Linked DNA regions of Homo sapiens: region 2 is linked to region 1. Evidence: fine-mapped expression QTL. A gene starts in region 1. The other region holds a variant in brackets. All regions are shown on one strand. Distances are between the middles of the regions.

The links. PIP is the estimated chance that this variant, and not a neighbour inherited with it, causes the effect. A credible set is the group of variants that fine-mapping cannot tell apart.
Region 2: its variant is the best candidate, but not a certain one, in a credible set for the expression of VEZT in whole blood (TOPMed, PIP 0.79).

What each region holds. Positions count from the first base shown.
Region 1 is chr12:95,215,881-95,220,277 of GRCh38, forward strand. VEZT (vezatin, adherens junctions transmembrane protein) reads left to right here and starts at 1,927. Exons shown (of 12, transcript NM_017599.4): 1 at 1,927-2,006. The coding sequence starts at 1,971. FGD6 (FYVE, RhoGEF and PH domain containing 6) reads right to left here and starts at 1,587. Exons shown (of 21, transcript NM_018351.4): 1 at 1,345-1,587. The coding sequence starts at 1,360. RefSeq lists enhancers at 1,251-1,845, 1,846-2,441, 1,906-2,145, 2,746-2,795 and a silencer at 1,446-1,675.
Region 2 is chr12:95,296,202-95,300,598 of GRCh38, forward strand. VEZT (vezatin, adherens junctions transmembrane protein) reads left to right here. Exons shown (of 12, transcript NM_017599.4): 11 at 1-57; 12 at 3,964-4,397. Among named protein-coding and RNA genes, the nearest start is that of MIR331, 10 kb to the right of the region's middle. The variant T/A (reference allele first, on the strand shown) is at 1,928.

The DNA.
Region 1 (4,397 bases):
CTAAAACTGGCTGGAAGGATTTTAAAATTTCCAACCACTTTTAATTTAAATCAATTTCTTGAACGAAGGTAAGGCACAGAAATGTAGGATGAAAATAATTTACCTTATGTAAGTATAAAGCCTCCCTTTGGCAAAGAAAAGAGAGTTTATAAAGATATCTCATATAAGTGCATATAACATCAAAAAGGAAAGACCCACACAACACCCACTTCTTGCTTTCTTTTCCTATTGGCTAACTTCTTGTTTCGTTTGTTGTAATCTGATCACAGGGAGCAATGCAACACTACAATATATCTAGGCTTTAGAAATAATACAAATCAGAACATTTGAGTGCTGTTGGACAGTTTCAAGTTGCAAGAATTTTAAACAAATGCCAAGAAAAGCAATGAAAATTTAATCTGATACTTAAGTGCTGATTCTGGAAGTAACCTTGAGAAGAAGCTTTAAACTATTTCACTATAAAATTTCTAATGAAAGTTTCAACGTGGACAAAAACGTAAAATAACCCATAACACTCTACTTAATACATAAGTTCTGGTTTAAAAATTAACCTATGTACTTACGAAGTGAACGTAACACCACTTTGGTAATTATTTTGTAAAACAGAAATTGTTCCTTAAGAATGTTCAGAAACACAACGTCTAGAATTGCTGAAAATCCACACAAAGATAGAGGCTTTGTCATTTGGATGAAGGGGAAAGAACTATGGGAGGCAGACAGAAAATAAAGCTTTGTTTACCCTAATCAGGTAGAAACAAACAAAATAATTGTAATTGGGTGCAGACAAGCAAAAAAAAAAAAAAAAAAAAAACCTCAACAATCTCAACTCCTCTGCTTCTCAGGTAACAGAGGTAAAACCACCAGGACATGACAATGTCTACGCCTCTTTAAAATGGGTAAAAGGTTTACCAGCAGATACAAGGTTGAAAGCGACTCACTTAGTGGCCAAATTGAACACGCTGAGAACACTGCCTTTACCTATAATAACTGATCTATTAACTTGGGAATCTACACTATTTTCACATGCAAAGGCGAAGTCCTCGCACTGCTGGAGAGATGAGCGAACGCCCTTCACACATCGCATTTCACCTGGTGCAGAGCCCCCAGCACAGTCCCCCTTGGAAGGGAGATCCCGAGAAATCCCGGGTTTCCAAACAGCCCCTCTGGGCAGGAAAAGACGAGAAAGCCGGCAGCGAATCCCATTAGCTCCGCGCTTGCCGAGGTGCTCGGCAAAGGTACGGGGCACACAACTCGCCCACCCCGGCGAAGAAAGTTGCTCGCGAGCCCAAGCCTAGCAGCGCTCGCCACAAACTTTCCCGCGGCAGCGCGAGCGCCGTCACTTACCGGCTGCAGAAGTCATGATTCCCCGGTGCAGCTCGCTTCCCCGCTCGGCCCCTCAATCCATCTTCCCCTTTCAGTCCATTGTTCCCACAGTTCGGGTAGGAGAGAAAAGCCCCCGCAGCGCCCACATTCCGTCCCGCCGCCCCGCGGCGCAGCCTGAGCGCCACACAAAGGACGCGGCCGACTCTAGCGACCCTGCGGCGCTCCCGGGCGCGAGCCGCCGGGGTCGGGCGGGCGAGCACTAGCACCGCCCCGCAGAGCGGCAGGCTGACAGCCAGGCGCGGGCACGAGCAGTGCTCTCTTCGGCTCCGCTGGCGCGTGCCCTTCTCGGGCTCCAAAAATCAGCAGTGCTCCGGGCGCCCCCTGCTAGTCGCGGCCGTAAAAGGCAGACAAAAGCCCTAGCCTCCTCCAATCGGAGGGCTCGAGCTTCAGCTCGCTCCCGCCTCTCTCGCTTACACGCTCACTCTCTTCTCCAATAAGCGGGCTCGAAAAGGGGGCGTGAGCGGCGAGGCATATTGGGAATTGTAGTTTTCTGGACCCACGGGACGGGCAGGAGCTGGAGCTCCGTGCCGCCTGTACTCCCGCCTTCATTTCCCATCGTGCTGAGGCGGGTGGCATGGCGGAGAAGGATGACACCGGAGTTTGACGAAGAGGTGGTTTTTGAGGTAAGAGGAAAATGGCGGTGGGTGTGGATTGCCTTTGTTTGAGAAGGACGAGACGGAAATCGAGGAAGCAAGGCGTTCCCGGGGCGAGGGATCGGGTGACGCGCTCCAGCTGGCCTCGACCACCGAACCCCAGCGATTTCAGGGCCTAGAGTCCGTCGTCGCCTGACAGGTGTAGCCAGAGGCGCCCTGGCCGTGGCCGGCCTCTATCTCGGGCCCGCCCAGAATTCCCAGACGGTGCCCGGTTGCCAGGCTCTGGGCTGGAGCGGTGTCTCTTCCTTCCTGGGAATGGATGTGCGGCGGGGGGGACTGCGCCCGGCTGGGGCGGGGCCGAATCGTGCCTTTTAGATAGTCACAACTTAGCCTCCTCCTTTTCCATCCGCGATTTTTTTGGGTCAGTATCCAGAGTGCTTCAGGTCACTGTTCACCGTCAAGGCGTGGCCCTCGGAATGAAGGCAGCAGGTGCCCGTTTTCTAACACGGTTTAAAGTCTATTTGTGGGACCTACTGTGGGTAGTTAGGGCCAGGGCATCTCAGCATCTAGATTCGATTCTTTTGTCCTTTGCTGTTGCGCTAGGTGTAGCCAGTTCTTCTGACTCGGGGCTCTAGATGTGAGTGCTTTTGTGTGGGACTATTTTAAGACGTTCTCTGCCATCTTGAATGAAAAAAATCGGGCGAGTGTTTTTGATGCCATTTTTTTCCATCAGACACAGGTCAAAACTCGCACCCCTGTACGTATGTGTATTGCATGTATACGCTTTACTTTCATTTATCCAACTAGATTTTAAGAAAATTTAAAAATGAAGTGGCCCATGCCATACAGCGAGAGAGCGAGGCACAGACAGGACAGAATGCTAAATGTTGAAATATGTACAAACTGTCATTGAAGGATTAATTTCTGTTCTTGCGGCCTCCCAGAGGCTACACCCAGTACGCGATATCCGAGGTGAATCTTTAACTATGAATTGGATTAGAAAAACCGGCAGGAGAAAATGTATTACAGGGAAAGAGAACTGATTATGCCAAGCTTGGGAAGTGTGAAAGTACCTGGTGTGCATTTTTAGGGGGCGGGGTGTGGAGGGTGGCTATGTAAAGTGGCTTGATGTGGCTGCAATGAAGAAGCAGTGGAAAATGTGGCCATTTTACCGAAGTGAAGAGTCTAGATATGAGGCGTTCATTAGGGAAGACAAGGGCCTGAGATGAAATGAGAGACGTAATGGAATAATGGCTTGGACAGACACTTGTAAGTTAAAATCGAGGCAATGTTTATAGATTGAATGTGGTAGCTGAAGGAGAGAGAAATATTTTCTAGAGTAAGGGTAACTGATGGGTGTATTTTTTTTACCCATTATTTTTGATTTCTGAATATAATAGTAATATATGCTCAAGGAACATTTTATTGTAGAAAATAAGCCCCCAAGTTAAAATCATCCATTATCCCACCACCCAAAGATGGTAACTATTAACAGTACGGTATGTGTTCTTATAGACTTTATTTCTATGTAAATGTGTGTTTATGTGTGTGTAATTTTTTAGCCTCTATATTAAGACACAATGTGTGTGTGATATTTTTTAAAACAAAAGGTATACCACGTAGAATTTTGTATATATTTTTCACTTGACTTTATCGTGAATCTTTTCCCATTCATCATTCTCTGAAAACATTAATATTATAATATCCCCTCACGTGTATCATAATATAACCTTTTTTTAAAAAAATACCATTGTAATCAACAGTGATATAAGCCTATTTTTAACTACAACTCTGATTTTCCTCAGAATAATTTTTAGAAGTAGAACTAGTGGGTGAAAGAATATGAACATTTAAGACTTACGCAGAAAGGTTATACCAATTCCGGTTTCCATTAAGAATAAGAGAGTATTGGTTTCACCAAATCCTCAACAACAGCCTTAACAGTTTCCTTTAATCTTTGCTAATTTGATAGGCAAAAATAACATTCCATTGTTTTAATTTACATTTTATGCATTTATACATTTATTAGCTATTTTTATTTCTTTGAACATTTCTCTTCATATTTGTTGCTCATTTTCTTATTAGATGCTAGCTTTAAAAAAATTGACTTGCGTGAGTTCTTCATATATTACTAAGCCTTTGTCATACTTGCAGAAAAATTTCCAGTTTGCTGTTTGTTTGCTCTTTGATATACACAATTTTTATTGCAGTATAATTTACATAAGGACAGGGCACAGATCACAAGTGTGTGGATGGTTATATTTTCACATGTTGAGCACACCCATGTAACCAGCACCCAGATCAAGAAACGGGACAGATGGGGCATGGTGGCTCACACCTGTAATCTCAGCACTTTGGGAGGCTGAGGCAGATGGATCCCTTGAACCCAGGAGTTTGAGATTAGCCTGGACAACATGGTGA
Region 2 (4,397 bases), 80 kb after region 1:
TTAAAGCTTCAGAGGCAGAAAGGCAGAAGTGGAAGCAACTTCTATTTAGTGATCATGGTAAGCACTGACTTTAAAGTAACAGGTTATTTCAATGTAGGGGATTCTTTCTTTCTTGAACCATGAATGTTATTTTAGCTGAAGAATTCTTGGGGTTTTATAAGGGTCCACCAGTATGCATAGTACTTTTTCTTCTAGATGCTAAATCAATTTGATTAATAAAAGAGTAGGAATGTAACCACATTGGAAATATGAAGTCATACTTTTTTATGAGTTATTTAATTTTTTAGTAAATTTGTTTTAGAATGGGCAGTGAGTTGAATAATTTGGGATATTTTAAATGTTATTTTCAAATTTAGTGAATTTGAGATTCTCAACTCTGTTGTCCATATGTTAAAATATTTAAAAATACCTCAGTGAAGCACAAAATTAATAACTGTGCTCACATTGAAAAAAATGGCCCAGGCGCAGCGGCACATGCTTGTAATATCAGCACGTTGGGAAGCTGAGGCGGGTGGATCATTTGAGGTCAGGAGTTCAAGACCAGCCTGGCCAACATGGCGAAACCCCATCTCTACTAAAAATACAAAAATTAACAAGGCATGGTGGCGCGTGCCTGTAGTCCCAGCTACTCGAGAGGCTGAGGCAGGAGAATCACTTGAACCCGGGAGGCGGAGGTTTCAGTGAGCCAAGATCACGCCACTGCACTCCAGCCTGGGCAACAGAGGGAGACTCCATCTCAAAAAGAAAAAAAGAAAGAAAAGAAAAGAAAAGAAAAAAAAGGAATTAAAACCTAGACCAGTGAGCCACATCATTAGCATTATTTAAGTGGTTTGAGCACTTTAGTAGATGGGAGGGGAGCAGGGTGCCTGTGGGCGTACTCCCCATACTCTGATTTCAGCAGAGTGGGGTAGCTGGTAATACAAAAGCCTTACATTCCTTTCTGTTTCTCACCCTTCTTTTCTTAAGTCAAACTTCATGGGAGACAGGGAAGGAATCAGGGGAAGCTTAATACTTGACAGTATCAACCTAGCTAATTCTTAGTTGAATTAATGCCTATGGATTTCTAAGTAGGTAGAGTGTGGATTCTCTTCCATTTTACAGTATCTGTGTGGACCCTCGAAATCAACTGCCCTGCTTTTCCCTCCTCACTAGAAGTACATAGATTACCTATACTTCTGGAAAGTTCCTCCAGTTCTCTTTTTTTTTTTCCCCTCAGGAGCCCTATGTTTTCTCCTGTCCAGATCTGCATTTCTTGGTTTTATCATTCCTCTTTCTTCCCATTGGCCCCCTTTATAGCCCAGGTCCTCAGTAGATTATCCTTGTACATTAAAATACCTTCTTAGCTGACTTCCATTTTCAGTACTTTTTTCTTCTAAGCTATCTTGCAAACTCTTTGCAGATTTTTCTCCAACACTGCATTGATGATGGCTCTCTATCTTAAAACCTATAGTGGTTTCTCCCTTTCTTATTGTGTTGAATCTAAACTCTTTTTCCTGTTTTCAAGTCTCTTCATCATAAGAATTCATCTATCCAATTATATTTTCTACTGTTTTTACTATAGATATCTTCTTATGTTTATCGAATTAAACTACAGTTCACAAATGTGTTATTTTTATTCATGAAAAAAATTCATGCTGGCCAAGCACAGTGGCTCACGCCTCTAATTCCAACACTTTGGGAGGCCAAGGCAGGTGGATCACTTGAGGTCAGGAGTTCAAGACCAGCCTGGCCAACATGGCGAAACCCCCTCTCTACTAAAAATACAAAAATTAGCCAGGTGTGATGGCGCACACCTATAATCCCAGCTGCTCTGGAGGCTGAGGCAGGAGAATCGCTTGAACCTGGGAGGTGGAGGTTGCAGTGAGCCGACATCGCACCACTGCACTCCAGCCTGGGTGACAGAGTGAGACTCTCTCTCAAAAAATAA[T/A]AATAATAATAATAATAATAATAATTCATGCTTACCCCTTTACCAAGAATTCTGCCTTCTCCACCAAGCTGTCCTCTCTACTAGTCTCTCCTTCTCCATGAATCCTTCTCTGAGTGCTCCAGCTCTGCCGCCTCTCCTAACACTACAGACCCTCACACTAGAGGAACATTGTGATAAAATATAAAGGAAGTCTTGAACCCCAAAGCATATAGCAGAGAAGGGAAATGATTAACAGATTGATTTCCTGCAATCTGTTCATTCATATACTGGGCCTACATACATCAGAGATTAATTTTAGGCACTGTTGTTTTCTATATGTTCAGGGTTTTGTTTTGTTTTGTTTTGTTTGTCTCTGTAACAAAATTACAGTCTTCTTAAATAGGGGCCTTATTATCCCACAGCATTCATTCAGCAAATTACTCATTCAACAAGTAGTTATTAGGTACTTGTTATATGTCAGGCACTGTTTACTGCTGTATCCCTAGCGCAAAGATCAAGAGACAAAATGTAAAGCCTCCTACCTGCCTCAAGGCTTAAATTCTAACACACTCGTCAATTGATCCTCTCATTACTCAGATTATATCCACCCCATTTAATTAGTAATAATTGTGAACTATCAACCAACTTCTAATATATGTTGCTTCCTTTAAGAGCTAACAGATTTATAAACTAAGAATGTACATATATTGAAAATAGCATTGTATATAAACTTATATCCTTTTTTATTGTTTAGTGTTTCTTCATATAGCTTTAAAATTATGCTATTGACATTATGGGAAAGATTTATCAATGAGAGAAATGTGTCTCTTTTTCAGGTATGTGCTTTTGATATAGTTTACATTGGAAAGGGTCATAATGCTGTTTTAGTTTGTGAAAATAAGTAAAAAGCTGCTGATACCATAGAATGCTTTTCCCATGAAAAATTTCAGTACATCTTCCAGAGCTGTTTTCATCTCTGCCTACAGGGGTAAAGTCCGCATGGAATTAGAGGGGGAAAGTCTGCACTGGAACCTGCTGTGGCCATTTTTTTTCTGTTGTTGCTGCTTCTCTAGTGGAGTTACTGCAGCTTAGGGATGGTTCCTGGAAGTGGACACATTTTACAAAAACGTTTTTTAAATACACGCCAGCTCTTCGAGAAGCACTTTTTTCCTTCCGTCATGCTTCATACTATATTGTATTGTACTAACCCCTCATGCTGGGATGAGCGACTGCCTAGCAAGCAACCCACTGCCTACTAACATCAAGAGGGGCTAAATAAAACTGCATTTTCCTTGCAAGGACAACTTCTACCGTATGAATATATATTATATTTATGTATTATATTTTGTACAATAGTTGATCTTGAATGCAGACTTCATTTGTATTTTTCGTGGTACTACAAAATGTGTAGAAGTTATGGCTTTTCTTTCATTAGGGTCTTGTTAGGTGGTTGGCAAGTAAGTTAAATTGTATGTTGCATTTTTTTCCATGCTGTTTTAACTTGTAAATATATATGTATACATATGGAAGATATTATTATTATCTAGATTACTTTAAGCCTTTTATCTGATGTATTATCAGTGAAAACCATGCTGCTTATTCCCTAATACAATGGTTCTCAAACTTTAGTGTGTATCAGAATCAAGATGAGGGCTTGTAAAATATAGCTGGTCCCTACTCCCAGAGTTTCCATTTCAGGAGGTCTGGGATCAGGCCCAAGAATTTGCATTTTTAACAAATTCCTAGGTGATAACTGATAATGTTGGTTCAGGGAACACACTTTCAGAACCACTGCTTTAATATTTTAAATAAGATAATATGTGAGGTGTCATAAAAACCTTCATCAAATCCCTATCTCATTTCATTTCTTAGGCATTTTCTCTCTTATAAAGTTTCCTGGATTTATAAATTTTCATTGATTTTACTAGAAAGTTTTATTTAGCTTTTATTTATTTATTGTTCTTTTTAAGAAAAAAACTGAGAGTTTGAATTAAAAGTTTAAATCATTGCTAGGTCCTTAGTTATTTTTTTTCTTTTTTCTTTTTTTTTATTTGAAGCCGTGTTGAAATCCTTGTCTCCTGTAGACCCAGTGGAACCCATAAGTAATTCAGAACCATCAATGAATTCAGATATGGGAAAAGTCAGTAAAAATGATACTGAAGAGGAAAGTAATAAATCCGCCACAACAGACAATGAAATAAGTAGGACTGAGTATTTATGTGAAAACTCTCTAGAAGGTAAAAATAAAGATAATTCTTCAAATGAAGTCTTCCCCCAAGGAGCAGAAGAAAGAATGTGTTACCAATGTGAGAGTGAAGATGAACCACAAGCAGATGGAAGTGGTCTGACCACTGCCCCTCCAACTCCCAGGGACTCATTACAGCCCTCCATTAAGCAGAGGCTGGCACGGCTACAGCTGTCACCAGATTTTACCTTCACTGCTGGCCTTGCTGCAGAAGTGGCTGCTAGATCTCTCTCCTTTACCACCATG